Linked DNA regions of Homo sapiens. The protein of the gene in region 3 interacts with the protein of the main gene of each other region in a biochemical or structural test. Each region holds a gene or a part of one and is shown on either strand. Other genes may lie near its edges.

Region 1 (8,054 bases), on a different chromosome or scaffold from region 3:
GGCCTCTTTTGGTGGCTGCTGTGACGGTGCAGTTGGATGCGAGGCCGGCTGGAGGGTGGTTTCTCAGTGCATGCCCTCCTGTAGGCGGCAGGCGGCAGACACACAGCCCTCTTGGCCAGGGAGAAAAAGTTGAATGTTGGTCATTTTCAGAGGCTTGTGAGTGCTCCGTGTTAAGGGGCAGGTAGGATGGGGTGGGGGACAAGGTCTGGCGGCAGTAACCCTTCAAGACAGGGTGGGCGGCTGGCATCAGCAAGAGCTTGCAGGGAAAGAGAGACTGAGAGAGAGCACCTGTGCCCTGCCCTTTCCCCCACACCATCTTGTCTGCCTCCAGTGCTGTGCGGACATTGAAGCCCCCACCAGGCCTCAACCCCTTGCCTCTTCCCTCAGCTCCCAGCTTCCAGAGCGAGGGGATGCGGAAACCTTCCTTCCACCCTTTGGTGCTTTCTCCTAAGGGGGACAGACTTGCCCTCTCTGGTCCCTTCTCCCCCTCCTTTCTTCCCTGTGACAGACATCCTGAGGTGTGTTCTCTTGGGCTTGGCAGGCATGGAGAGCTCTGGTTCTCTTGAAGGGGACAGGCTACAGCCTGCCCCCCTTCCTGTTTCCCCAAATGACTGCTCTGCCATGGGGAGAGTAGGGGGCTCGCCTGGGCTCGGAAGAGTGTCTGGTGAGATGGTGTAGCAGGCTTTGACAGGCTGGGGAGAGAACTCCCTGCCAAGTACCGCCCAAGCCTCTCCTCCCCAGACCTCCTTAACTCCCACCCCATCCTGCTGCCTGCCCAGGGCTCCAGGACACCCAGCCCTGCCTCCCAGTCCAGGTCGTGCTGAGCAGGCTGGTGTTGCTCTTGGTTCCGTGCCAGCTCCCAAGGTAGCCGCTTCCCCCACACCGGGATTCCCAGAGGTTCTGTCGCAGTTGCAAATGAAGGCACAAGGCCTGATACACAGCCCTCCCTCCCACTCCTGCTCCCCATCCAGGCAGGTCTCTGACCTTCTCCCCAAAGTCTGGCCTACCTTTTATCACCCCCGGACCTTCAGGGTCAGACTTGGACAGGGCTGCTGGGCAAAGAGCCTTCCCTCAGGCTTTGCCCCCTGCCGGGGACTGGGAGCCACTGTGAGTGTGGAGACCTTTGGGTCCTGTGCCCTCCACCCAGTCTCGGCTTCCCACCAAAGCCTTGTCAGGGGCTGGGTTTGCCATCCCATGGTGGGCAGCGTGAGGAGAAGAAAGAGCCATCGAGTGCTTGCTGCCCAGACACGCCTGTGTGCGCCCGCGCATGCCTCCCCAGAGACCACCTGCCTCCTGACACTTCCTCCGGGAAGCGGCCCTGTGTGGCTTTGCTTTGGTCGTTCCCCCATCCCTGCCCACCTTACCACTTCTTTTACTCCCCCCACCGCCCCCGCTCTCTCTCTGTCTCTGTTTTTTTATTTTCCAGAAAATCAGTTCGAGGAAAGGGAAAGGGGCAAAAACGAAAGCGCAAGAAATCCCGGTATAAGTCCTGGAGCGTGTACGTTGGTGCCCGCTGCTGTCTAATGCCCTGGAGCCTCCCTGGCCCCCAGTACAACCTCCGCCTGCCATTCCCTGTAACCCTGCCTCCCTCCCCTGGTCCTTCCCTGGCTCTCATCCTCCTGGCCCGTGTCTCTCTCTCACTCTCTCACTCCACTAATTGGCACCAACGGGTAGATTTGGTGGTGGCATTGCTGGTCCAGGGTTGGGGTGAATGGGGGTGCCGACTTGGCCTGGAGGATTAAGGGAGGGGACCCTGGCTTGGCTGGGCACCGATTTTCTCTCACCCACTGGGCACTGGTGGCGGGCCCATGTTGGCACAGGTGCCTGCTCACCCAACTGGTTTCCATTGCTCTAGGCTTCTGCACTCGTCTGGAAGCTGAGGGTGGTGGGGAGGGCAGACATGGCCCAAGAAGGGCTGTGAATGACTGGAGGCAGCTTGCTGAATGACTCCTTGGCTGAAGGAGGAGCTTGGGTGGGATCAGACACCATGTGGCGGCCTCCCTTCATCTGGTGGAAGTGCCCTGGCTCCTCACGGAGGTGGGGCCTCTGGAGGGGAGCCCCCTATTCCGGCCCAACCCATGGCACCCACAGAGGCCTCCTTGCAGGGCAGCCTCTTCCTCTGGGTCGGAGGCTGTGGTGGGCCCTGCCCTGGGCCCTCTGGCCACCAGCGGCCTGGCCTGGGGACACCGCCTCCGGGCTTAGCCTCCCATCACACCCTACTTTAGCCCACCTTGGTGGAAGGGCCTGGACATGAGCCTTGCACGGGGAGAAGGTGGCCCCTGATTGCCATCCCCAGCAGGTGAAGAGTCAAGGCGTGCTCCGATGGGGGCAACAGCAGTTGGGTCCCTGTGGCCTGAGACTCACCCTTGTCTCCCAGAGACACAGCATTGCCCCTTATGGCAGCCTCTCCCTGCACTCTCTGCCCGTCTGTGCCCGCCTCTTCCTGCGGCAGGTGTCCTAGCCAGTGCTGCCTCTTTCCGCCGCTCTCTCTGTCTTTTGCTGTAGCGCTCGGATCCTTCCAGGGCCTGGGGGCTGACCGGCTGGGTGGGGGTGCAGCTGCGGACATGTTAGGGGGTGTTGCATGGTGATTTTTTTTCTCTCTCTCTGCTGATGCTCTAGCTTAGATGTCTTTCCTTTTGCCTTTTTGCAGTCCCTGTGGGCCTTGCTCAGAGCGGAGAAAGCATTTGTTTGTACAAGATCCGCAGACGTGTAAATGTTCCTGCAAAAACACAGACTCGCGTTGCAAGGCGAGGCAGCTTGAGTTAAACGAACGTACTTGCAGGTTGGTTCCCAGAGGGCAAGCAAGTCAGAGAGGGGCATCACACAGAGATGGGGAGAGAGAGAGAGAAAGAGAGTGAGCGAGCGAGCGAGCGGGAGAGCGCCTGAGAGGGGCCAGCTGCTTGCTCAGTTTCTAGCTGCCTGCCTGGTGACTGCTGCCTTCTCTGCTTTTAAGGCCCCTGTGGTGGGCTGCAGGCACTGGTCCAGCCTGGCGGGGCCTGTTCCGAGGTTGCCCTGGTTGCCTGAGTGGTAGGCTGGTGTGGCTTAGTGTAGTGGTGTGGACGCAAGCTGTGTGTTGTGTCCTGTGGTCCTTCTGCTCATAGTGGCTGTTGGTCCTGATGTTATTACTACCTCTGGTAGTAATGCTGAGAAGCTGAAAGCCGATTCCAGGTGTGGACAATGTCAACAAAGCACAGATGCTCTCGCTGGGGCCTTGCCTCGGCCCTTTGAAGTCTGCATGGCTGGGCTTCTCACTCACTCAGTGTTTCTTGCTGGGGGAAGGAATTGAGTCTCCCACTTCAGACTGGGCCTCCCTGAGGAAAGGGTTGTGTCTCCCCACTCAGACTGAGGTTCCCTGAGGGTAGGGCTGTGTCTCTCCCCTCCGACCTGGGCTCCCTGATAGGGCTGTCTCCCCGCTCAGACTGAGGCTCCCTCAGGCCAGGGCTATGTCTCCCTCCTCAGACTGGGGCTCTGAGGGCAAGGGGTCTGGCTGTTCGTTTAGGATGGGGCACTTTTGCCTACACACTGAAGGAGCTGTAGCATCCAAGAATACTAGATACCTTTAATCCTCCACCAGTCATGGTGACAACCCCAAGCAGCCCACACATTTTCAAGTGCCCCCAGGATGCGTGGAGGGAGGGGTCTGTGCCCATTCTCCTGACATTAGCCTGTGAGCTCCGTAAGCCCGGGCCTCGTTTACGTACCTTTGTGAGCCCCGGGCATCTGTACCTCTTTCCTTTGCCCATACTGGGGACCAAGGAAGTGTCAAGTGCATGAGTGAATGTGTGACTCAGTTCAGAGGGTGAGGTCAGGAGCACAGGGTCGGGACAGGTGGCTGGCATCTTTTAATGCCTTAGCTTATGTTCTTTATACCAACTTGGCCTGTGCTCAGAGTGAGGGAGGCCCTGGGGGTCAGGGTAAGCGTCAGTCAGGGAGGCAAGACTTTGTGGGGATTTCCTAGACAGGGCCAAGGCACCCCCAGCTCACCCCGAGGCTGTGTTAGGGAAGTCCTTGGAGTGTCTCCCCTCCCCCAGCAATGTTCTTGTGGCTTGTGTGTGCTCAGGGGATGCTGGGAACCAGGCCTGGGTAGTTGGTGTGGGGTGCTGTCTGTCTTGGCCCTATGTGAAACCAAGAGGGCGTATATTAGTGCTGGGGTGGGGGCTCTGCCTAACTTCAGGGCTGGATGAGGGGAGTCTCAGTTCCCCAGGGGTCCTTGGGAAAGATAAGGGACTTGACATTTTAGGGTTTTTAGGTGATTATTCTGCTGATGGGGGTTTGTGTGAAGTGACCTGGGAGCTAACTGAAGTTACTCTAACCTCCCAATACCTTTACCCAACCCCCAAGCTGGCTGTATCTGGGAATATCAGTTTCCAAAATTGGAGGCTTAGGACTCCGTTTCGGGGCTCCCCAGAAGGGTAGGGCCTGTTCTGCCTCCTTCTCACAATCACCCAGGGGCAGGGGCATGCTGAGAAAGTTCTTGGAGGCCCCCTTTGCTTCAGCTGGAGTAGTGAAGCCGCCGAATTGTCTCTCCCCATCCTAAGTGAAGCAGCATATTTGAAAGGAAAGACAACCTGTTACCTGGGCCTGCAACCTCCAGGCAGCTCAAGAGAGATGAGGCCTACAGCCACAGTGGGAGGGGACATGGGGAATGGAGATGGTCCCTCACCTTCCTGGGGCCTCCTGCTCTACGCTACCCCCTCGGGAGCCTCCTGTCCCCAGGGCAGGCCCTTGCCATTGTTGGTCACCCGGCCAAGCCTCTCTGCCTCAGGCGTTCTCCCAGAAGATCTGCCCACTCTCTTCCCCACACCAGCCCCTAGAGACTGAACTGAAAACCCTCCTCAGCAGGGAGCCTCTTCTGATTAACTTCATCCAGCTCTGGTCACCCATCAGCTCTTAAAATGTCAAGTGGGGACTGTTCTTTGGTATCCGTTCATTTGTTGCTTTGTAAAGTGTTCCCATGTCCTTGTCTTGTCTCAAGTAGATTGCAAGCTCAGGAGGGTAGACTGGGAGCCCCTGAGTGGAGCTGCTGCTCAGGCCGGGGCTCCCTGAGGGCAGGGCTGGGGCTGTTCTCATACTGGGGCTTTCTGCCCCAGGACCACACCTTCCTGTCCTCTCTGCTCTTATGGTGCCGGAGGCTGCAGTGACCCAGGGGCCCCCAGGAATGGGGAGGCCGCCTGCCTCATCGCCAGGCCTCCTCACTTGGCCCTAACCCCAGCCTTTGTTTTCCATTTCCCTCAGATGTGACAAGCCGAGGCGGTGAGCCGGGCAGGAGGAAGGAGCCTCCCTCAGGGTTTCGGGAACCAGATCTCTCACCAGGAAAGACTGATACAGAACGATCGATACAGAAACCACGCTGCCGCCACCACACCATCACCATCGACAGAACAGTCCTTAATCCAGAAACCTGAAATGAAGGAAGAGGAGACTCTGCGCAGAGCACTTTGGGTCCGGAGGGCGAGACTCCGGCGGAAGCATTCCCGGGCGGGTGACCCAGCACGGTCCCTCTTGGAATTGGATTCGCCATTTTATTTTTCTTGCTGCTAAATCACCGAGCCCGGAAGATTAGAGAGTTTTATTTCTGGGATTCCTGTAGACACACCCACCCACATACATACATTTATATATATATATATTATATATATATAAAAATAAATATCTCTATTTTATATATATAAAATATATATATTCTTTTTTTAAATTAACAGTGCTAATGTTATTGGTGTCTTCACTGGATGTATTTGACTGCTGTGGACTTGAGTTGGGAGGGGAATGTTCCCACTCAGATCCTGACAGGGAAGAGGAGGAGATGAGAGACTCTGGCATGATCTTTTTTTTGTCCCACTTGGTGGGGCCAGGGTCCTCTCCCCTGCCCAGGAATGTGCAAGGCCAGGGCATGGGGGCAAATATGACCCAGTTTTGGGAACACCGACAAACCCAGCCCTGGCGCTGAGCCTCTCTACCCCAGGTCAGACGGACAGAAAGACAGATCACAGGTACAGGGATGAGGACACCGGCTCTGACCAGGAGTTTGGGGAGCTTCAGGACATTGCTGTGCTTTGGGGATTCCCTCCACATGCTGCACGCGCATCTCGCCCCCAGGGGCACTGCCTGGAAGATTCAGGAGCCTGGGCGGCCTTCGCTTACTCTCACCTGCTTCTGAGTTGCCCAGGAGACCACTGGCAGATGTCCCGGCGAAGAGAAGAGACACATTGTTGGAAGAAGCAGCCCATGACAGCTCCCCTTCCTGGGACTCGCCCTCATCCTCTTCCTGCTCCCCTTCCTGGGGTGCAGCCTAAAAGGACCTATGTCCTCACACCATTGAAACCACTAGTTCTGTCCCCCCAGGAGACCTGGTTGTGTGTGTGTGAGTGGTTGACCTTCCTCCATCCCCTGGTCCTTCCCTTCCCTTCCCGAGGCACAGAGAGACAGGGCAGGATCCACGTGCCCATTGTGGAGGCAGAGAAAAGAGAAAGTGTTTTATATACGGTACTTATTTAATATCCCTTTTTAATTAGAAATTAAAACAGTTAATTTAATTAAAGAGTAGGGTTTTTTTTCAGTATTCTTGGTTAATATTTAATTTCAACTATTTATGAGATGTATCTTTTGCTCTCTCTTGCTCTCTTATTTGTACCGGTTTTTGTATATAAAATTCATGTTTCCAATCTCTCTCTCCCTGATCGGTGACAGTCACTAGCTTATCTTGAACAGATATTTAATTTTGCTAACACTCAGCTCTGCCCTCCCCGATCCCCTGGCTCCCCAGCACACATTCCTTTGAAATAAGGTTTCAATATACATCTACATACTATATATATATTTGGCAACTTGTATTTGTGTGTATATATATATATATATGTTTATGTATATATGTGATTCTGATAAAATAGACATTGCTATTCTGTTTTTTATATGTAAAAACAAAACAAGAAAAAATAGAGAATTCTACATACTAAATCTCTCTCCTTTTTTAATTTTAATATTTGTTATCATTTATTTATTGGTGCTACTGTTTATCCGTAATAATTGTGGGGAAAAGATATTAACATCACGTCTTTGTCTCTAGTGCAGTTTTTCGAGATATTCCGTAGTACATATTTATTTTTAAACAACGACAAAGAAATACAGATATATCTTAAAAAAAAAAAAGCATTTTGTATTAAAGAATTTAATTCTGATCTCAAAGCTCCTCTTGGTTTCTCCTTCTCCATTGAATCCTTGCTCTAGACTTCCTCCCGCCCCCTTTCCCTCTTCCTCTGGGGAACATGGCATTTGTCTTGGGTCTGGGAAAGGTACGTCTAATGTGTAGGATATGGGGTGACCCACCTTGTTGTGCTGGGGGCAAAGTCCTTCCATTTTGGCTGAGCTGGTCCTGGGGGAACCCATCCATCCTGTCTTGATATAGAAGGTGGGAAGCTCTGGGAATGGGTGGAGGGGGAGAAACAGCTTAGGAGCCAAGGGCCCTTGCAATTGGTAGTGCTGCCTTCAGGAATTAGATGATCCAGGCCCCTGTCCCTTAGCCAGGGAAAGAACTGGCCATGTCTCCAAGCTTGCTGCCCAGGAGACAGGAGAGAGCTGTTTTTGTCTGTGGGGGTCTTGTTGGCTGCAACAGGCTGGGAGTGGGAGGGGGATGCTGCTGGAGGGCTGTGACTCCAGGGTGTAACTTAATTTTACATAGTTTTACACCCTGGAGTTCCTTGAGCCTCTGGAAGATGGACCCATAGGTTTGGTCACCACTGATGGGACACTCCCTGCCCCAGCTTGCCATAAGCTCTTCTCTCACGTCCTGCTCCTGGGTAAGGTGGCACCTATCCAGGTCTTTGACACTGAAGGGCAGTGCTTCCAAATTCACTTCCTCTAGCCTCTCATTTATTCTTGCAAACCATAGATATGGCTTGAATAAATATTGAGCCAGTCATTGTGCTGCTATGAATAAGACACAATTCCACCCCTCAAGGATCTGGTGAGGATGGGTGGGTGGGGAGACCCAAAACTATAAATCCATGAGCAGAAAAATACATAAAATGTGCTGGGGGCATCTGATCTAGCTTGGGAGT
Region 2 (8,266 bases), on a different chromosome or scaffold from region 3:
TTGTTAATTTGGTAAATACTGAATTTTTAAAATTCTTATAGTAATTCATTCTTTAAAAAAAAAACTCAACTGTGGTAAAATATACATAATATGAAATTTACCATCTTAACCATCTTTAATACGGTTTGGTATTGTTAAGCATGTTTATAGTTGTGTAACCATCTTGTTTTTCATCTTGCAAAACTGAAACTCTATGCCCATTAAACAGTAACTTCCCATTTCCCCCTCCCTGTACTAATTCAGTTTTTATTTTACAGATGTTTGTCTGTGACAAATTGGAAATAAGAAAGTGGTCCTTCACTACGGAAATTTTTAAAAGCAGTGTTCTAAAGTTGTCAGTTTATCAGTAAAAAGCATTTTAAACACATACTTGGCTTGTAAATTAAACTCTGAAGCTGTACACACAAAAAACTGAAGTCCTGGGAGAACAAACATACCTCACTAGCGTCCTGGCTGATGGTTTTTGATTGCTTCGAACTAGATACAATCACACTGTGTATTTTTAAAGCCATTTATTTCTAACCATAACTTCCTATTTAAGCATGTCAATCAAACTTTCATCATTGCTTCACCATGAAGGCAGGCATGAATCACTTTTTCCTAACCCTTTCCATTCTTCTATATTCTGATTCTGGCTGAAGCAACCTGCTGATAGCCAACATGAACAGGTGATTTTTTGTTTGTTAAAAAAAAAGGCTTTATGAAAGGTTTACAATTTAGCAATCATCAGCTTGCCTTCTGACAGCTTCATCTGTTACTATTCTAAAACAACTTGGCTTTGTAGATGGAATTTCATTAATTTCCTCAAAGAGATGAACCTACTAATTTTAGTTCAGTGAAATATGTTCTTCCCAAATTGACAGCTTTTAAGTTTAAAAATGCATCGGAATCCTATGTACAACGTATCATAAGTGGACTGTCAGATTACTATCCAACAAAATATCCTGGGGATTTAAGATTTTGTTTTCAGGAAAAAAAACTTTTAAGCAACACAGAAACATACTGTATAATAGTTTTATTTTTCTCATTTTACTATTTTTACATTTTATGCACAAATATTTATCTGCGTAAAAATAGAAAATAACTGTTTTATGTAAAATTACAAAAAAAATTAAAACCACAAAGAAATACATAATTGTTATTATGACAGTATAAGTGTCGTTGTCGTTATTTAAAGAGTAAAAATGTATGCAAAAGTCCTCCTCCCATTTACAAAAGATTGAGAATTTTGTTTTTCCTGGCAGCAAGTGAAATATTGAAGTATCAATATTTTTACACCCTTTAGATCTGAAGACATTAAGTTAGTCACAGATTTGTTTTGCAATTATGAATTTTAAAACATTTTTGTGCTATTTCAAGGATACACTAGTTCTTTCTTAAAGGCAGTAGCATAAAATGAATATGGAAAACAGCAGACCTCACAAAAATATTTGGTGGTACAATTCTTTTTGTATCATACTTGAATATCACCATTAATCAGGGGAGAAAACAACTAAACAATTTTTCCTAATAACATAGACTGATACAAAAATAACTGTGATCAGTCAATTTATCTGAAGATCAACCACACATAGCAATTCTGCCTCATTTGTTTTTCTGATGCCAACACAAATATTTAGACTTTAGGCTAGCAAGATATGTATGAAAGTTGGCTCAATAAAAACTTCACATGGAAAACAAATTTTAAAACAAAAATGAACATTTCTTTTACTTAAATTCTTGTACTTCTAAGGTACAAATGATGACCAATAATTTTATCTTTCTTCCTTTGAATATACTGTAAATTCTATGAAAAATTCATTTATAAAAACAAAGCAAAGAATAGCATAAATTTTATTTTCTTTCACAATGTTATATTTTAATAGAAGAAAAAAACTACCTTTCTGATAACTGTAACCTAAGTAAAACAAATATTTTACATATAATTTGAGGCAAAGTAATGAGTTTCTTGAATCAACTGGAGAAATTAGTCACATTACCTATGTCATGCATAAATGATGGTAAGAAGAAAAAAAAAGCATCTGATCATGTATGAGAACTGTCTCTGTTCAAATTATGAGAAATAAAATGAAAATTGCTAAAGGGAGAAAATGAATAAAATATGATTTAAAAAAAAACCATATGGGAATTGCATAGATGAGAAAAAAATTTTCATTCTAGGGATCTAAAAGTAATGTTTTTAGCTTTAAAAACATACACACACATATATAATTGAGACATGTCTATCATCTTGGCTAAAATTTTAATATATGTCTCCCCAAAAGCATTTTAAATATGAAAGCCAAGATTCTTAAGCTCTTGATGATATACCAGAAGGGTATACTTTATTATTTTTTTAAAACTACAAGCAACTTGTCAACTCTCTAGGCCGTAAGAGGATGGTGCAAAACCTTTCTTGCTGTCTATTTGTTACCTGACGTTAGAGCTTCTGTTTATTATTTCATATTGTTATTTTACTCAGATATTCTTAAAACCACAGTGCCCAAATTGTACTAATAATCTGTCCATATATTCTCTTTCAAAAAAGTAAAAATGGAAATACAAATCTTACTCTGCTCAGATATCAACTGCAGGAAGAGCTTAATAATATGAATGAATTGAGAACATGTTTTAGTAAAATTATGCATTAAGATTACCAGAGAAAGAGATCAAAGATCCCTCCCTCTCTCTCTTCTCTTCCTTGTCCTTAAGATCCCTGCCTCTTAGGATTCATTCCAAACCACTACCAGAATTGCTAACAATGCCATCTTGCCTGTATTATCATGCCTTTTTCTCCTAGTTAAGTCAAAAGCATTAACTGAGCTCTTAAGAAGCTTTTTAAGAGGACAGATTTAAAGAAAACAATGAAGGAGAAGGTGCATAAATATTTGAGAATCAACTTTCTCAAATCTGTAAGAGGATTAATAGCTATCTGCCAGTCTCATGTAATAATTCGTGCTTAATACCTTAAACAACAAAGAGAGAAAAGAAAGAAAAAGACATTTCTAGCCATTTTTGTTTAGTGTTCGCTTATGTAAGGAATGTCATATATGCAGGAATTAGTTAATTTGAATCTTAAAATGAGTTGTTTAATAATTTTTCTTCTGTATATCTTTATGCCTTCATATGTTTATAAAATGATCAACTGAATATGTATACAGCTATATGAATACACATATATAATATGGAAAAGGAAAACAAGTGGAAAAGTATTGTCTTAAAGAGAAGACTGCCTATAACAAAGGTCGTATTTTCCTTTTAAAACTATTTGCAAGTAATTTACTAATGCCTTGAAAGGTAAAGTACTACTGACTGATTTAAAGTCTTCATTTTATCAGAAACAAAGGAATATAAGCTGCTTTGCATAATAAACTGGCACTACAGGGTAATTTTTTAAAAAAGGAAGCCATAACAAACCAAAACAAACCTTTATTTTTGGGTTGAGGTATACCTTTTCAGTTTTTTAAATCTCTGACAGGAAAAACAGAGATCATTTTATAATTTTTATAACAGCTGGTTTATTAGAATTAAATGCCTCTCTCAAAATAATTTAAATTCTTGGTCTGACATGAGTAATCTATACAGAAAATCCTTAAAATTGGCTTGAGTTAATAAGCCAGATTTAAACCTGGATCTCCTCCTTCAGCACTGCTCTTTTGCCAGTCAACTTCTTACTGTCCTTTGCTTGCAAATATATAAATAACCTGATACTCTTAGTTTAGTAATTTATTAATATAAATTTATTCGGTATGAACATTTTAGCTCTGCTTGATTAGATGAAACAGGCACACATGCTTTAGCTGAGAAATTCCATTTTCTGGTTCTATGTAAAGCAACATCTAAAGCAGCAGAGAGGGGAAACAGTTATATTTTCAAAAATAGTTAAGCCAGACTGTTTCCTAGAGATACTTCATTTATTTTTCATTTTCAGATACTACTGGCTATTTTTGGTAGGGCTACACATTAATACTGACCAGTTTAGCCTTCCTGACTGTTAAACTATTCCACAATGAACCTGCCTTCACACTGCAGACATTGTGGAGATCCTTTAACATACACATATTCTAAAATATATGCTCAAAGTAAAAAGATCCAAATTCACAAGAGTATGAAATATTTATAAAAAAATCATGCATCAGACTGTACAGCCTAGAAATAAAAGAAGATTCAAATTCAGTAATAAAGGTAAGAGCTATACTTGCTCTAAACATTTTAAGAAAGACTTTGGAGTCTCAGAATGTCCTGGGGCTCAATTATCCTTTTCCGTTTGCAGAGAAGCAGTAGCCAGAGCTACTGCTGTGACTGGCTGGGCAATTCCATGGAGCTGCATCTTTGCAAGTTTCTTCTGTTCACATTCTGTGACCAAACGGTTCAACTCCGCTGCACTGTATCCAATAAGAGTCTTCAAGTCACAGACAAACTTGTACACAAATCTCTTGCCTTGAACTTTACAAATCATGTCCCCATCGTAATAATATCTTCAAAAAGAGAAAAAAAAATTAGAGACTTCAGAAAAAATGAGACTTCTTACAATAATTTACAGACTATTCCATAAGCAGAAGCCTAGTAGAGTACTGCATCCGCCACAATAGCAATTAATATTGAAGCTATGTAGAATATTTAATGCTACTATCAAATGAAACATCCCAACATTATTTACTAAAATTTCAATGCTCACTACTCCAAAACTCTATACATTAAACTTTCAAAACATATTTTCAACAATTAGAATAAAACATTGATTTAAAAATAATTATTAAACAAAACAAAAAACCTTGAGAGCAGTAGAAGAGCCTAAGAACAAGAGCTTTGGAGTCAGAAAGCCAAGATTCAAAACCTAACATTTTTGAGACCACAGGAGTCATATTTTCTCAAAGCTTTTATTCCTCATCTATAAAGTGAGGTTAACAGTGCTTATACCCTCATATCATTGTTGAGGATTAAAGGGATAATCTTTGTAAAGTGCTTAGTATACAATGACTGGCACACAGCCCTCTACAAAATATAAGCTATGTTAATAAAAATCGATAATATAAAAAAAATTAATACATATATTCCACTTCTTTTCTGTCTTGTAAAGAATCCTATATGATGAAGTCATGTCTTCATCTTTATTATTTCACTATGTAAACGCTTTCCAAATTTCAGATAAATTATCCAAGCCCAATAGGGAGCTTTAAGTCTAAGGAAAAGGTCTAAAAGAAACAGAGGATACAGAAAAACAGGTAAAGGACATTGCAAAGAGACAATGTTTCTAAACGTACACAAGCAGAGTTCCGGCAATCATTCTAGAAATCTAGTTTACTGCTGCATTCTATAGAGATGCAAATGGAGCTGGATTTATGTTTCCTTTGGAAAACAGACTTTATTTAAACACACACTATGTATTGCTAATTCCAACAACAGGAAAAAGAGGCAAGTCAAGCTCTTTCCACGACTGGCAGATTGCAAAGCCCTTATTTTAAAATTGCACTGCCCACTGACAAAGGGCTATTATAAAAGAAACAACTATTTGCAAAAGTACCAGATATAAACTATCACATTTAGCAGGATAAAAGTCACTTGGCTTAATCAAGAGTCTATTAATGAAAGGACTGACCTATATACAGGAAATTGTCATCTTTCCCTAATTCCAGAATAGCAAAAGAAAAATAGTTATGTTTGATTTCCCAGTAAGAGATATAACACATTGGGCAGTCTTGTAGTTTCCATTTATGTCAATTACATTAGTACAGAATTTGGATTTCAGCTCATAAACCAACAATTCCTTGCCATCCAGTTAAAAATGCTATAGGCATATCAATTGCTTTAAAAAATTTCTACATTAATATGTAAGACTATACGTGGGGAAAAAAAGGAAAATGGAAAAGGAAAGAGGTTTTATAATTCTAGGAGGAAAATGGAGTTGGCATAATCATATTTCTTGGTAAGAGGTGATAAAAAAGAATATACACACATAAATTTGAATTTTACTGAATACTTCTTTTGATCTAGTAGATGCATCACACAACTGTATATAGTAGCATTTATTCCACTTGTTGCCTCCCTAAAATGAAAGATACACAATACCTGTATTTCATGGATATGATTTCTTTTCTTCCCTCTTTTTTTTTAAACTTGTATTTTTTTAAACTTTTTAATTGCAAATATATCACACAAACAAAAGGACACAGAAGTGAACAGTTCAGTGATTTATTACAAAGTGAACATTCACTCACCTGTTAAGTATCACTCAGGTCAAGAAACAGAACACTGCCAGCATCTAGAATCCCCTTTATGTCCCCTCCCAATCACTCCCCAAATCCTGGCTCTAAAAGGTAAACACAAGCCTGTATCATGATAGTAATTTGACTGCTTTTTCTTTATATTTTTATCACCCAAACATGCATCCCTAAATACTGAAATTTAATTTTCCTGTTTTTTGAACTTTACTAAATAAATGTAATCATACAGAATTTGGTCTTTTGGGTCTGGATTCTGTCACTGAACATTATGTTTGTGAGGTTCACTGGTCATTGTTTGTAGCAGGAGCTTAGTTTTCAAGAATGCAAGGTATTCTTGTATGAATATACCATAAATGATTCATTCACTCTACTGTTGATAGATATCTGGTTGTTTCTGGGGTTTGGATGTTATAAATAATCTGCTATGAACATGTGTATGGGCATAGAAGTACATCTCTGTTTGATGTGTATGAAACAGTTGCTTAGGGGAGCAACTGTTACAATTTACATTCCTATCAAAAGGGTAGAAGCATTCCCATTGCTCCATATCCTCAACAGAGCTTAGTTCTGGCAATCTTTTAAATTGTAGCCACTCTAGGGGGTGAGTTGTACCATTTAATTATGGTTTTCAATTGCATTACTCTGAATACTAATGAGGCCGTACACCTTTGCATATATTCATTGGCCATTTGGATAATCTCTAGCCTGAGGTGTCTATTCAAGTCTCTTGCCCATTAAAAAATTGATTTGTAAGAATTGGTTAGATATTCTAGATACTTCTGTCCGACATGTGTGGCTCTCTTAATAAGGCTTTCAACGAACAGAAATTCCTAATTTAAATATAGTCCAGTTTATTGATCTTTCCCTTTAGAATTAGTCCTTTTGATTCTGTTTAAATGTCTCCCTACCACCAGAAGTTATGAAAGTATTTCTAGATCCTTTTCTATTTTACTTTTTACATGTAGAGCTACAAGCTACATGGAATTGATTTTTGGTACGGCATAAGCAAGAGGTCAACTTTTACTTTTCCCCAGAGATGGAGAGTAAATTATCCCAGCACTGATTATTGAAAAGCAGGTCGTTTCCTCATATGTTTTCTCCCCACTGCCATTTCTTTAAATCAAATGCTTACATATTCCTGGTTCTATTTTGGCTCCCTATTCTACTGTATGGCCTATTTGTCTTGAGAAAATAGCATAACTGTCTTATTACTGTAACTTTAGAGTCAGTCTCAATATCCTGTGGGACAAGTCTTTCCACTTTGCTAATCTTCAGGTGTCCTGACTACCATGGTACTTTATAGTCCCATGTAAATTTTACAATTATCTTCTCAAGTTCTATGAAAAACTTAGTTTGATTTTTCAAATTAAACTAAGTTGCTGCACTGAAACTTAGATCAATCTGGGGGGGAACTGACATCTTAATTATTAACTCTAACAATTTACCTGTAATTTTGAGGGGACTTGTATGTATACAATCTGTATCAACTCTCAAAAATGGCAGCTTTAATTATGATTATAAACGAAGAATCTTTAGACAGTTGGCAATGTGTTTGAGACTGAATGGTAAAGGATAAGCATTTTGAAAACTAAACATTTTAGTTACTCATGAACTCTGAGAAAAAAAGGGTCATTCAGGAAAAGAAAAATAATCACAGCCAACTATGTAATAATAGTTACATGGCCGTAATACTGTAACAATGAATACTCGCTGAACCAAAATTTCCATATAATTATATTGGGATACTGAGATGAAGGGATGGAAAGGGGAAGGGAGAGTGTGTGTGTGTGAGCTAAATTATAATCTTTCAGTGTGAAAATGGCCAAGTGAAACATGAAGAAGCAGTAAAAGCATGCTATTTAGAAAAACTCGTGAATTGCAGAACTATTTTACTATATTCAATCTCCCAAAAAATCAGACATAATTCCGTGATATTCTTATATATCCTTCTTCTCAGATACTTAAATGTACCTGTTGAATTTCCATCACTGTAGTAGGCATAATTTCTGATAGTAATTTCTGTCAAAAAACCTTATACTACTTACGGAGAGTTTGTATCAATG
Region 3 (8,277 bases):
TTCAACAGAATGTTTTGTTTTCTTTAATCTGACATGAATTCATCTCCTAATTGTTGATTTTATCAGCTATCTTTCACAGATTTTGTCTTCATGTATTTTGGAATTTAGGTTTGCAGGATCATCTTGAATACAATTTTTTTCTTTCTTTCTCAGTATTACAATTTTGGGTCTGGCATTTCTGCAAGCCCCAAAACTCATATATAACTCTTGTAAGCAGTAATACTGGCTATATCACAAATCCAAACACTCAGCTAACAGTTCAATGGTTCAGATTGGTTCAGATGTGGTGGTCGTAAGACTGTGCTGATGTCCTCCTATTTTCCTGCATCATCGTCTCATCTCCGTAAATCTTCATTTAAGTCATACCTCAGGATAACAAACAGCAACAACTTTTTGTAGCTCCCCTTTAACAAAAAAGAGCCCTACTCCAGGCTCTTGTTTTCAGCAATGAATCTAACTCTGGGTTTTTCTGCATGTAGGGTACTTTTATCTATATTAATAGCTAATTAAATAGGATGTAATTCTTGACCTAAATACTTAGCAAGTATAGGAAGTCCTTATACCCTTATCCAAGGTTTTGCTTTCCACAATGGTTTGTTACCCATAGTCAATCACAGTCTGAAAACATGAAATTAAAAATTCCAGAAATAAAGACTTCGCAAGTTTTAAATTACATGCCATTCTTTGCACTAAGAAATCTCATGCTGTCTCATTCCATCCCACCTGGGACATGAATCATTCCTTTGTCCAGCCTATCCACTATACATGCTACCCACTCATTACCATATAGTAAAAACCATAGTGTATATAGGGTTTGGTACTCCCTGAGGTTTCAGGATCCACTGGGGGTCTTTGAACTATCCCTCACTGATAAGGGGGGCGACTATTCTATTTTCATCCTCCTAAAACTAAAAATTAAGCAATATTGTAAAAAGTGTATATGCAGTATAATTATGACAATATTTTAAAATATATGACACTAAGTCTTATTCCTAAGAGATAAGAGAAAATTTCACTTTCTACATTAAATATTTCCATAATGTTTTTGTTTTCCATATCAAGCCATGTATTACTTTTGTAAGCAAATCAACTTTAAGTACAGAAAATAAATAATTATAAGTCTCAAAATTAATAAACCAAAAAAATCGTTGGAAAATCAGAATATGAATAGGTTTTCCCCAAGCATTAAAATAAAAATCTTAATTTCTAAAATTTAAAGACCATAGCATGCAATACATACATGATTCACAAATGAACAGGAACTCAGACATAACCAAGCTAAGTGGTATGATACCTAAATAAACCATCCTCAGGTTATTTTTGATAAGACAACTTTAAAGTCTACAGAAAGCAACAGTGTAAAAGTCTTACACAACAACCTTTTATGTTGTGTAAGAGGGGCAAAAGGAGATCTACCAATTACTTAAAATCAGCACAGATCATAGTCATCACATTTTGTCTATTCTTTTTGTAACTCTAAAAAGACCACATTTCCATCATACACTCTACTTTTCAAGCAATAGGGTTGGCCTTTTAGCAGTATTTGTGCATTTCTATAATCAACCAGTTCTGACAGTGATCCCTTAGGTAAAATCAGTAAGGATTTATCTTTCACCTTGTTAGAATCACAAATAAAAATGTTTCAGAAGACATTTCCTCCACTTACCATGTAGAAAATACTTTATTCAAGGCTAGTATTTTACCCTCAAAAAGGAAAAAAAAAAAATCTGAAATAAAAATAACCAAAAAAAGGGAAGAAAAATACAATACTGATATAAATTAAAGAGCACACTGCCAAGACACTATAGGAGAGTGAAAAGAACAAAGCCTAGTTGTGAAGCCTTGGGCCAGTTACTTTCCTATCCAACCGTGAGAATAGTAAATAGATTAATGTAAGAAAGAATTATATGAGATAATACACCTAAAAACACCTAAACAGTACCCGATAGAGTAGGAGCCCATAAGAGATCCATCCCTCTTTCGCCTGTCAATCTTTAAATACTTAAATATTAAGTTAAAAAAGCCTGCCTTTTATAAGGCTTCTATTTTCTCAAAAAAAGATAGCTACCAGTTAACCTGCAACTATCCAGTTTTTCATGAATAATGGGGAATTCTAAACATTAAGTTGTTTGCTTTTAAGAAGAAATGACTTCTATAAACTCTTCTTCCAACTTCAAACACCTGACTCCATTTTAAATGTGCCCAGTCTTGAAAGATTAACTGTATTTTAGATAAAACAAAATCTGACAGAGGACTAAAATTTGAGAGACTGAATTAAGTCTTGGCTTAAATTTGGGGGAAATTTTGACATTGGAAAGATACATAAATTCACACTTTGCCTCCTCTTACCCAGTTTCAAATATACAGCAACGATAAAGTAAAAATGAGACAACAATGAAGTTTCCTAAAACAGCATGCATTTCTCAGTGGGCCACAAATGGACAGAAATATGTAAGATTAGTAGGGTTTCAGCTTGGCGCCTGATGTTTCCAGGAAGATGGAGATTTGCCTTCTAAAGGATAAGGAGTAGTAAAAGTACCCCAAAAAAGAAGGGAACAAAGTCAGACTTACTGCTTAATACAGGCTCGAGTAGAGGTCATTTTTGTTAAAGGGGTCCTTTAAACTTAACAAAAACAAACAAAAAGGCAAGTTCCAGAGCCCTGGTTTAAAAAAAAAAAAAGTACTTTCTCCTTTATTTTGGGAAATTGTTACATTAATGTCATGCTTATCAAAAGTAAAGTGCAGGCTAGGCACAGTGGCCCATGCCTATAATTCCAACACTTTGGGAGGCCAAGGCAAAAGGACTGCTTGTGCCTAGCAGTTCAAGACCAACTTGGGCAACATAGCAAGATGCCATCTCTACAAAAAATTTAAAACTTAGCTGGGCATGGTGGCGCTAGCCTGTAGTTCTACACATTCAGGAGGCTCAGGCCAGGAGTTTGAGATCACAATGCGTTATAATCATGCCACTGCACTCCAGCCTAGAAAACAGAGACCCTGTCTCTTAAAAAAAAAAAAAAAAAGTAAAAAAGGCAAACCAAGGATGTCAAAGTTTTCAGCATTTTCATCTGGGCATACTACACGTAACACTGAAACAAAAATGTTTTGCTCTGATTTTCTAGTGAGAAAAAGCATCTTAACATATCTCCCTTCTTGCCAATTAGAAAGATAGTATACCAAGAGAAAGTTTATATCCTCAAAATGAATTTATTACTAAATATGCTATGTCTTATACAGCATTTTTATTCTCACTTGCTTTAACTTTTACTTTCTCAAATAATTTCCCCGTTCCTTTAAAATCAGGACAAAATTCAAATTTAATGGCTTTCTGGAGTATTTATTTTACCCTTCCTGGGCAACATTCAATAAACTAAAATTCCATTTTGTATTCAATATACACAGTGTTTCTATTCTGATAACATTTGAAAAGAAATTACTTTACTGAAGAACTTGGTGCTTTATACCAACTTCATTTCATGACCAACATAAATCCACAAAAATCAAAGTTTCTAGATTTATTTTCTAACACCTATAGAACGCTGTAACATTAATTTTGTACACACATTAAAAACTAGTTTCTAAAAACTATCTTTTATGTCTTCAGTAGTCTGTCACTTAACTCAAACCTTTTAGTCTCAGAACTCCTTTCCAAACTTACACATTACTGACGTTCACAAAAAACTTCTGTTCATGTAGTATATGTGTATACTGATACTTACCATATCATAAACAGAAATTTAAATTTAGTTCATTTAAAAATAAATCCATTACACGTTAACATAAATTAACATTTTATGAAAAACATTTTTCAAAACAACAAAAAAAGTTTAATGAGAAAACCATGTTTTACATTTTCACAAATCTCTGTAATGTCTAGAGTGAATAAAAGAAGACATTTAAAGTCTCAGATCTGCTCCTGCATTCAATCTCTTGCAATATGGTTCGGGCTGAACCATATGAAGAGTATCTACTCACGGATATCTACCTGGAAAGGGCAAGAATAACTTAATATCCTTTCAGCCAATTGTGGGTTTTCTTTGAATACTACACCAAACTTAACAGGTGGCAGTTTCTTCAAGTTCAGTCCAAATGTGGAATCTGACACTACCTGTAAACTTTCTATACTGTTATTGGTCTATCTCGCACTTTGAATGGATCTTTTACTCATGCATGATTTTATAATATAATGAGTTGGTCATCTGAAAACTGCCGGTTCACTGAACTATCATACAGATCTTCCAAGTGTTAGCACATTACATTAAAATACAGTATCAAAAAAGCTTTGTTAGTATCACTATCCATCTCATCAGAAAAATATTAAGAAGGTATCAAGCTCATAATAGATTTGAGTTTTCTAAAATTCTAATTTTCACTGGAAAGCACAAATTTTGTCATCTGCAGCAGCAAATGCTTTCCAGTTTTTTTCCTTCACATGACAGGCTCACTTCATTTTTTTTTTTTTTTTGAGGAAATATCTGTCACTTAAGTACATTAATCTCAAGACCACAGTTTATCATTCTTTCAAGTAAAAACAGTATTTGATGAAAATAGCATCTAGTTCAGCTTGCAACTCACAGAACTGCATAACTGAGGGAAAAAAGTGGTTTTTTAAAGACAATTCTTATTTTGATATGCAGCAAAAATGCTTTATTAAGGCATACTTCCCATTTCATCATAAATACTACTACAAAGATATGCAGTAGGAACTACAAACCAAAACCATAAAAAGATACCACTTCACACCCACTAGGATGGCTGTAATCAGAAAGATGGGCAATAATAAGGTTGGTGGCGCTAGAGAGAAATTGGGACTCTCAACACATTGCTGATGAGAATGTAAAACGGTATGGTCTCTTTGGAAAACCGGTTAAACCCAATTGCCATATAACCCAGCAATCCAGTCCCAGGTACATACCCAAAAGAAAACATTTCCACACAAAATACTACCTACACAAATGTTCACAGCAGCAATATTCATAATAGCCAAAAAGTGTAAACAACCTAAATGTCCACCAGTAGATAAATAAAATGTGGTATATCCATACAGTGGAACAGTATTCAGCCATATATAAAGAAATGAGGTAATGACACATACCATGACACAGATGAACCTTGAAAACATCATGCTAAATGAAAGAAACCAAACACCAAAGGCCACATATTGTACAATTACACTGATACGAAATAACTGGCAAATCTGAAGGGACAGAAAGTAGCATAGTGGTTGTCAGGGTCTGAGGGGAAGTGAATGATGAGTGACTGCTAAAGGGTATGGGTTTCCTTTTGAGGTAATAAAAATGCTCTGAAATTAGATAGTGATGATGGTTGTACAACTCTATGACCATAGTTACAACCAGTGAATTGTATAAAGAGTGAGTTTTACGGTATGTGAGTTATATCCCAATAAAGCTATTATTTTTTAAAAGACATGCAGCCCTCAAGGGTCAAGATTTAGTAAATATCTTTTCTTACTGGTTCATCGAGGTCATTCTTGAGTGAAACTGGGATTTTTCTTTAACTGCAAGTGCATGGTCATGAAGAATACAGCAACAACTATTACAGTTTGCTGTCACTGCCTTGATTTATGCTAAGACACAAGCAGTTTTATCCACCACCACTGAAAGTGTCAACACAGAGAACAAGGCAAACAATTTCTTAGTGCAGCTTGATGTGAAGGACCTCTGAGAGGGTCTCAGGGATATCCAATGGTCCACAGATCACATTTTAAGAACTACTGTTCTAGGCCAGGAGCAGAGCGGTGGCTCACGCCTGTAATCCCAGCACTTTGGGAGACCCACACCTGTAATCCCAGAACTTTGGGAGGCCCACACCTGTAATCCCAGCACTTTGGGAGGCCAAGACAGGCAGATCACTTGAGGTCAGGAGTTTGTGACCAGCCTGGCCAACATCTTTACTAAACCTCATCTTTACTAAAAATACAAAAATTAGCCGGATGTGGTGGTGTGCACCTGTAATCCCAGTTATTCAGGAGCTAATCCCAGTTACTCGAGAGGCTGAGGCACGAGAATTGCTTGAACCCAGAAGGCAGAGGTTGCAGTGAACCAAGATCACACCACTGCACTCCAGCCTGTGTGACAGAGCGAGACTCCATCTCAAAAAACAAAACAAAACAAAAAAAAAAACAACTACTGCTCTAAACCAGTTTCAGAAATCCTAATCCCAACCCCTAAAAAAAAATAATCACAGCTTCAGAAGGCTTAAATGCAATTAAAGGATTTCCAAATACGGATCTGAGGTTCTAAGACCATTTCAATTTTCTAAGCATGTATCACAAATTTATCAAAAGAAAAAAGGTAATCTTTAAATGGTGATGGGAGTTATGTCAATCAGTTCAGTTAAAGTGTCCCAATTTAAGAGTTTAGAATCACTGACCTGGTGAAAGAATGTTAGTAGTACAATCTCCACAGAAATCCAAATACAAAACAGAATTAAAGTAATAAAGTTCAGGATTTACTGCACAACAAAACATTCAATCAAATGTTATCTAGACAGACAACATTAATAGGGTAAAAATGACACTATCTCTTTTTAAACTTTATTATTTAATTCTTACACAACATTCAAAGAGCAGACTTCAGAAATGTCTACCCATACTATTGACAACTATTTCTAGCACAGCTAAGTTTAATGCCCACTATCACAGAATCAAAGAATTTTTGGTCTGGAAGGTCACCTAGACAGTTACCTAGTCCAACACCTCCATTTTACACAACAAGGAAACTGAGTTTGCGAAAGAAAAATAACTTGGTCAAAATCACACACCTAGCAAGTGGCTGAGGCATATTTACTCCCTGTACCATGTTTTCACTATACCAACCTGACTCCTCAACCAAATATAATGCATAAAAATTTTAATTCACATCACACTAAGGCCAACCAAGACACCCTACCTGCCAAATAAAAATTTTATAATGCCTGACAATATCAATCAGATGTCAAAACAAATATAAAATTAAGAAAAAACTATAAATGTTAATTGGCATAATAGAAACATGAATCCCTAACTTCAAAAACTACAAACTTTCAAAGAATAATTTGGAAGATACTTTGATGTCTACTTTCATACAAACATATTTTCATACAAACATTGATCATTAATTCTAATGTGAGTCTGATGCTGATAAATACCTAAAGCAAAAAATTTCCCTCTATGTATTATCACTGAACTTATTTATGGCATGACATAACTTAAGACTCACCTGCAGGACTGTCAGCATTCTCTCCTGGATGTAGCTGTATACCAGCAGAATCTATAGAGTTCACTGTAACTGTTTGTAGATTTGGCAACTGACCAGTGCTTAGACTAACTGGAGTTGAAGTGAAGGCTCCACCTGCCGCAACTTGACCAAGTGTGAGGGTTTGAACAGGCGTCAAAGTTATTTGTTGGGCAGCAGTATTCTGTATTTGCAAATTCTGCAAGTTCTGGACCCCTTGTACTTGAAACGTTTGCCAAGTTACCTGTCCAGAAGGGGTCACTGTCTGTGCCTGAATTAAAAAGGTTCCAGGATTCAGCTGCAACTGAAGATTTTGCAAAGCCTGTTGTGATATATTTTGACCACTGGCTTGCACACCATGGATTGTCTGTGGTGTAATACCTTGCACAATTTGGGCTTGACTGGTTGGCTGCTGAGACTCTTGAAGTTGTAGATGCTGTACAACAGGCTGTGCTGTAGAAACCTGAATATTCTGTGCCTGTGTCTCTTCAGAAACAGGCGACTGGATATAATTTCCCTGAAGATCTGAAGAATGAACCTGCCCACTAGATGTAGTCAAGCTATTTGTGTTTTGTTGTAATATACCTGTACTATCTATCGTAACAGGCAACTGTGATGAAGAGGATGTTGGCACAAATAAATCTGTATCAGTATTAGTTTCATTAATATCAGGAGAAACCCGCTCACCAGTCCTTTCTGAATTGTCTGAACTATCCATAGCTTGTCCTGTGTTTATCAAATGTCCGTCGGCATTAATGCCTGCAGTCATTGTCTGAGAACTGCCCGAGAGTCCCAAAGAATCTAGATCGACACTATTGATTGGTACAAACGTAATATTTCCTGGCAGACCAAGAGGCACATTAGCAACTACTTGGGTTTGACCAGGAAAAGATGAACCACCAATTGCAACTCCCTGAACCTGGACTTGACCAGTCTGTGGTATGAGATTCTGGATGTTAGCAGAAGGTGTTCCAGAGGCAAGTAAGGTTTGATTAGAGCCAGGAATGATCTGAATTTGACTGCTTTCTTGATTTATACCCCC
Region 4 (6,184 bases), on a different chromosome or scaffold from region 3:
TTTTTAGTAGAGACAGGTTTCACCATGTTGCCAGGATGGTCTCAATCTCTTGACCTCGTGATCCACCGGCCTTGGCCTCCCAAAGTGCTGGGATTACAGGCGTGAGCCACTGCACCCAGCAAATTTTTAAATTTCAAATAAGTAGTGAAGGCTATTATTAACTTTTGGAATCAGAAAGAATGACAAGCTTACCATAAGACATAGCATATAATGCTGTCAAGTTATTTGGCTAGAAAATCACTGAACTAAACATTCTTTTCCTTCTATGATCTATGTCTTAAGGTGAAGTATTAACTAACTTTTCCATGTAAAGCTATACAAATATTGGAAAATCTTTTCTAGGGAGTCCAGAATACTAAGGGTTACTTAGTAAAATGTATAAAAAGGCAACAGTAATTCAAATTACAAGATTTATATTTGCAGAGGTGATCCATATATACTTATCCCCTTGCAGTGGCTGGTATGACCTTTGGTTGTAAGACAAACTTGCCCACAACAGAGGTCAAATCCATGCCTTTGGAGATTAGCTCCATGGTGGATGGAGCTATGGTTTATGCATAAAGTAAATGTTTGTTTACCTTAATTCTCCTTATACCCATATTGTCCTGCTGTATAACACATTTTGCAGATATTTTGAAGTTAATGTGTTAAAAACTTGAGGTTAAACATTTGAGTTTTTGTTAAGAGCCAAACATCAAATGTGCCCTTATATTTTTAATGAATCTCATCCAAATGCTAATGCATAAACCTTGACAAGTAGTATAAATAAAACAAGAAAAAAATACAGCAATGTCTTTGCCATTCCCCAAAACAAAGCACACACTGCCGAAGATCATTAGTACTCACTGGTAACAAACTACATAGGGTTAGTTTGTATTTCCAATTCTAGAGCTGTAATTTTAAGGACAAAATGTACAATGATTGATTAAGAGTGCTATCTGTGTATATATAGGTATTATCACAACTCCTTTTTTTCTTCCAGATGAAGAAATTAATTGGGACCAATGTTTTTAGATCAAGGCATTTTAAATAAGCACTCTTGATTTCTGAACAAGAATTTCAACCAGCTAAATTGAGCAAAATAAAGTTAGTTAGGATATGAGGACATTATTCTGTTACAGTAATCTTCATGTACTCTCAAAAAAATGTAACACTTGCATAGAAATGTCACAATTAATGAAGGATTTTATTTGAAGATAAAGTCAAAATTATGGCACCGAGGAAGGTAATAAACATTTGAAATTTTTATTGATTTTTAAATTTAAAATCCAGTTTTAACCACAAAATTGTTTGAATCACAAGTGGTAATACAATGTCTTCAATATTTTTCTAAAGTTATTTTTCTATATAATAATAAGACAACAGCATAGCATATAGGAAGTTTTCATTCCAGTGGCTTTTTTATATATTTATCCTTCTTAGGAAGGACAAATTAAATTTTTTAAATTAAACTTTTAAAATATAACAACATCTAACAGAACTGTACAAAACAAAGAGACATTTTTTAAACAACTTGCCAAACTTACTTATGAGTGTGTTTTAAAAACAACTTTGTAAATGTCTGGGCAAAGAAGCAAGCTGTCCTCCCTTTACCTTCATAGTGAGTTTGTAAGGCTTTGTCTTTGTAAGCAGAAAGAGTAGACTGTGTTGTTTTTTGCCAAAAACTGTTTATACTTAATCTCACTGAAGTATTGCTATATGGAGAACCCATACTCTGATCAACTTGATTTTTTGTGTGTAATGCTTGATCTACCAGGTAACTTCCCAACTGCTCCTAATGCTAGCGGGCTAATCCCACATTATTATTCCACTATCATCCCTGCAGAAAGGTCTTGGTTTTGATGAAAATCAGCCCTTTCCTTACCTGCTACTGCCTCAAAAAGGGACCAGGAAGATTCTAGCTGGCTAATTCACTGTTCCCTTTGAGCAAGAAAACGGCACAGGGAGAAAAGGACTTATCTGGTGAGAGATTTGGCATATACCTTCAATGTGTGCCCTATAACACAACATTGTCTCCGATCTCATCTTTCTATCAAATGACTTCCAACACTCTTAAGTCTCAGGTATTCTTAAATCTGTATCATCAAACATGAAGCTTCTCTTGTTTGTTAGAGTAATTAATCTTTCTTTGGATTAAAGTTTCCCTTTGAAATAAAACCACCTACCTAATCTGACTGCTAAATTTCTAGCTTCTTTGTTTTAAATATGCTCAGGAGTCAACCCAAATTCTGCAGCAAATAAGTTTGCTTATTAACAAAAAAGTAAAAAAAAAAGAAAAGAAAAAAGATGACTAATTCTACAGATAGCTGTAAGGATGAATTACTCAAGTTCAAAATCAAATTCTGATTCTAAACACATAACAATTGTTTACATTCAGGATTAAGATGTCTTTAAGAGTTGAAACGACTTTGGAGATCATCCAGCCCAACTTCCATCCAGATATCACGCCTCTCACATATAGTAGTCTTCTGAATTATAAAAATTTATAAAGTTACTTCCAAAAAAAGCTACATAAATAAAAATTATCTATTTATAGAAATATCTATTTAGCAGTTCCATAATTTAAAATATTCAAATCAAATTGGGTAGGACTGGTTTGCCTCTCACTCCCACAGACTATATTTATACCTCAGACACAGCAAGTTACATTTAAACAATGAGTGTAGTACTACTTAACTAAAATGGAAAAAATAGTACTCTTAACATAATCCCTAATTTTTTCATGAACATAAAACTCCAAGTCATTTATGTGAACTATATCTCAATGTAGCTGTAGGAAAAATAAAAACCTGTGCTAACCTGGACTTTGGTCTCATTTAAGATTTGGTTCTGGAATGCAAATATGGTTTTTGAAAGCCCAATAAAATTAATTCTTGTATAGTCTGTATATATTGTTTACAAGGACTACAAACACTGCATCACAAATCGGAGGCTTTGGTAAATAACTAAGTGTCCAACATAGAAAATAACTATTTGGTCAAAAGTATAAAAGGTCTGACCTTATTTGAAATACGAAAAAGCTGAGTACTTGGAAGATACGTGAAAATACTCAGCATAGATATTATGAAAAGCTGAATAACAAAGTAACCTTTTTTCTCAAATTATTTCAGGCCACAGTATATAACGGAACTTATTGCTATTTGAAGTTTCATTAAAAATAGGTTCATATATAGAAGAAATTGTGTCAGTAATACCTCTTCACTAATATAAAATATGCCCCTTTTAGAAGACGTGTTCTCTAGATCTCATTTCTAAAACTCTGTATTTTTCTCATTTCTAAAACTTAAGTATCCAATCAAACTGACCTTACTAAAATCCCACAAATTATAAGTCAATTAATGTTCTGATTTCATTAATTTTGGCTTGTTTCATTTCGTCAGCATTTGGTTTTTTAGTTCCAAAGGCTCCTGCTGCAAGTTCTCTCTTTTTGTTTTGTATTTTCAGCATATTTTCTTCAACAGAGTCCTTTACAATGAACTTTAAAAAGAAAAAAAAAAGTTAAGTAGTTTTTAAGGCATAGTATTTAAAATCTTTATTAAAAAAACTAAATGAAAGATTTGCCTAATGGCAAAAACCGCAATTACTTTTGCACCAAACTATAATAACTATTTAATAGAACTGAACTTTGCTTTCCTTACCCAATATGGTTTTCTTATATAAAGAATATGGCTGTACGAATAGAAGTTACAGATCACAAGATAAGCAAAGCAATAAAGAAAAAAAAAGCAAACTATATAGGCAACTCTGGCAAAATGACTTCAGCATTGTATTAAAAAGGCCATTCTGGCCGGGCACGGTGGCTCACACCTGTAATCCCAGCACTTTGGGAGGCCGAGGCGGGCAGATCATGAGGTCAGGAGATCGAGACCATCCTGGCTAACACGGTGAAATGCCATCTCTACTAAAAAATAGAAAAAGTTAGCCGGGCATGGTGGTGGGCGCCTGTAGTCCCAGCTACTCGGGAGGCTGAGGCAGGAGAATGGTGTGAACCCGGGAGGCGGAGCTTGCAGTAAGCCGACATTGCGCCACTGCACTCCAGCCTGGGTGACAGAGCGACGTCTCAAAAAAAAAAAAAAAAAAAACAAAAAACTATTCCCAGAAATTCAAGAATGAATCTTTAGTATAATTCACAACACTAACAAAGAGAAAAATAAAACGTGATCATCTCATTCCTGATAAAAACTTGATTTTAAAATACCCCAACTAGGAATGAATGTCTCAACCTTACATATTTAATGTGAAACAATAAAAGTATTCTACAACAAAACAGAAACAAGTCAAGAATGGTCACTATCTGCTACTATTTAACATTGTTTAAGAAGACCCAATTACTGCAATAACTAAAGCTATATAATAAAATTTTACTGAAATACATATAAGATCTACATAAATGGAGAAAGGATACTATGTTCCTGTATGGAAACATTCGTTACTTATAAAGAAAGATAGTTCTCGAAAGTAATAATAAATTCAATAAATCTCAAGATATCTTAAATGGGATTTTATAACTAAAATCTAAAGTTCAATTCAAGAGCAATAATAATAACCACCAATACAATTTTCAAAAAGGGTCATCAGAACATTTTACCCTATCAGGTATCAAAACTTACTTTAGGAAACCATAGTTGTTATAAGAGTAATACTGCCCTAAGAAAAGGAAAAGAGATCAATGGAACAGAATAGTCTAGAAAAAGACCCAAGTAATATATATAAATTAGTTTATGATGAAAGTGACATTTCATACTAGTAGGGAAAAAGTTGGAATTTTCAAAGAAAAAAAATGATGTGACAGAACAAATCGTTCTTCATCTGATAAAATAATAAGCTTAGACTCATGTCACAAATCATAAAACAAAAAATAAAATCTTCCAAAAGAACCAGAAGTAAATACAGAATAGTTGAAAAAATGTGAAAATAAAGCCTTCTGTCCTAGGTAAGACCTTAAAACCTAGAACGTATAAAAAAGGCTGACGTTTTAAATCATAAAAATTTTAAAGCTTTTTCATGACCAAAAAAATGCAGTTTAAAGACAAGGAAGAGTATGGGATAAACCATTTTCAACATACATAAACAAAAGATTTCAAGTCAGACTGTATCAGGGAGTCCTTTATACTATAAAACTATTTGTACCATAACTATGAGAACTGGACAGAAGATATAAATAATTCACAGAAAAAATGTTAATAAACAAGATATGTGAAATATACTCAAGGTTTTAGGTAAATGCAAATTAGAACAGCACTTTTTTGGCCACAGAAGCATAAATTAACAATTTTCATATAAATCCTATTTTGAAACCAACTCGATAGTTGATAAAAATTCTAAATCCAGAATTCTAGTTTTCTTAACTTATCCCAAAGAATTACTTGCATCTATGTGAAAAGATTTATATATAATAATGCTCATTATGGCACTGTTTTTATTAGCAAAAAACTTAATGGGTTAAATATATTACGATATATCTATATGGTTTTGTAGAGTAGTCAAATTCAGAGAAAGAAAGTAGAATGGTAGTTGCCAGGGGCTGGGGGGAGAGGAATGGGAAGTTATTATTTAATGGATACACAGTTTCAGTTTAAGATGATGAAAAAGTTCTGGAGATGGATGATTGTGATGGCTGTTGCACAACAACATGAATGTACTTAATGCATCTAAACTGTATACTTCAAAATGGTAAATTTTGTATTTTACCACTATTTAAAAAAAGTGTTCATCTAAATGTACTTATGAGGTAGTCTCCAATGTATAGTTTTAAGGGAAACAAATATGTTGTAGAATAAAGTATAATTCCATTTATCTTTAAAAGAATGTTTTTAAGGAGATGTACACATAACTATAAATGTAGGTGCAGAGAAAGGCCCCTTAAACAGCATATATTAAATTATTGATGAAGGAGGAAAAAGGTGACTTATATTTTGCTCTGCATAATTACACTCAATCATAATAATATATTCATGCATTACTTGCTTAATTGTAAAAATCGTATCAACCTAGTCTTAAAATAGTTTGTTTAAAAACTCACTTTTGTGATGATAACTTCTTGCTTCTGACCAAGTCTATGGCATCTGTCAAAGCACTGATCTTCAGCAGCAGGATTCCAGGCCTAACAAGAACATGGATGAGTTACTTTACTACTGCCCTGATCTTTCAGTGTTTTGCATTTGTCCTTTCATTTCACTAGTAT

Evidence for each region.
Region 1: the proteins of SP3 (region 3) and VEGFA form a complex in vitro, tested with the Homo sapiens proteins (one study listed by BioGRID).
Region 2: the proteins of SP3 (region 3) and GABPA form a complex in vitro, tested with the Homo sapiens proteins (one study listed by BioGRID and IntAct).
Region 4: the proteins of SP3 (region 3) and HLTF form a complex in vitro, tested with the Homo sapiens proteins (one study listed by BioGRID).

The regions. Positions count from the first base shown.
Region 1 is NC_000006.12:43,779,306-43,787,359, forward strand, and holds the end of VEGFA (vascular endothelial growth factor A, long form), read left to right. Parts: intron 1-1,426; coding exon 1,427-1,498; coding exon of another isoform or gene 1,499-1,549; intron 1,550-2,650; coding exon 2,651-2,782; intron 2,783-5,235; coding exon 5,236-5,257; coding exon of another isoform or gene 5,258-5,323; 3' UTR 5,324-7,182; downstream 7,183-8,054.
Region 2 is NC_000021.9:25,765,195-25,773,460, reverse strand, and holds the end of GABPA (GA-binding protein alpha chain), read right to left. Parts: intron 4,458-8,266; coding exon 4,229-4,457; 3' UTR 1,001-4,228; downstream 1-1,000.
Region 3 is NC_000002.12:173,947,653-173,955,929, forward strand, and holds part of SP3 (transcription factor Sp3), read right to left. Parts: coding exon 7,221-8,277; intron 1-7,220. UniProt on the Homo sapiens protein: Transcriptional factor that can act as an activator or repressor depending on isoform and/or post-translational modifications. Binds to GT and GC boxes promoter elements. Competes with SP1 for the GC-box promoters.
Region 4 is NC_000003.12:149,028,896-149,035,079, forward strand, and holds the end of HLTF (helicase-like transcription factor), read right to left. Parts: intron 6,104-6,184; coding exon 6,023-6,103; intron 3,478-6,022; coding exon 3,325-3,477; 3' UTR 1,232-3,324; downstream 1-1,231. UniProt on the Homo sapiens protein: Has both helicase and E3 ubiquitin ligase activities. Possesses intrinsic ATP-dependent nucleosome-remodeling activity; This activity may be required for transcriptional activation or repression of specific target promoters.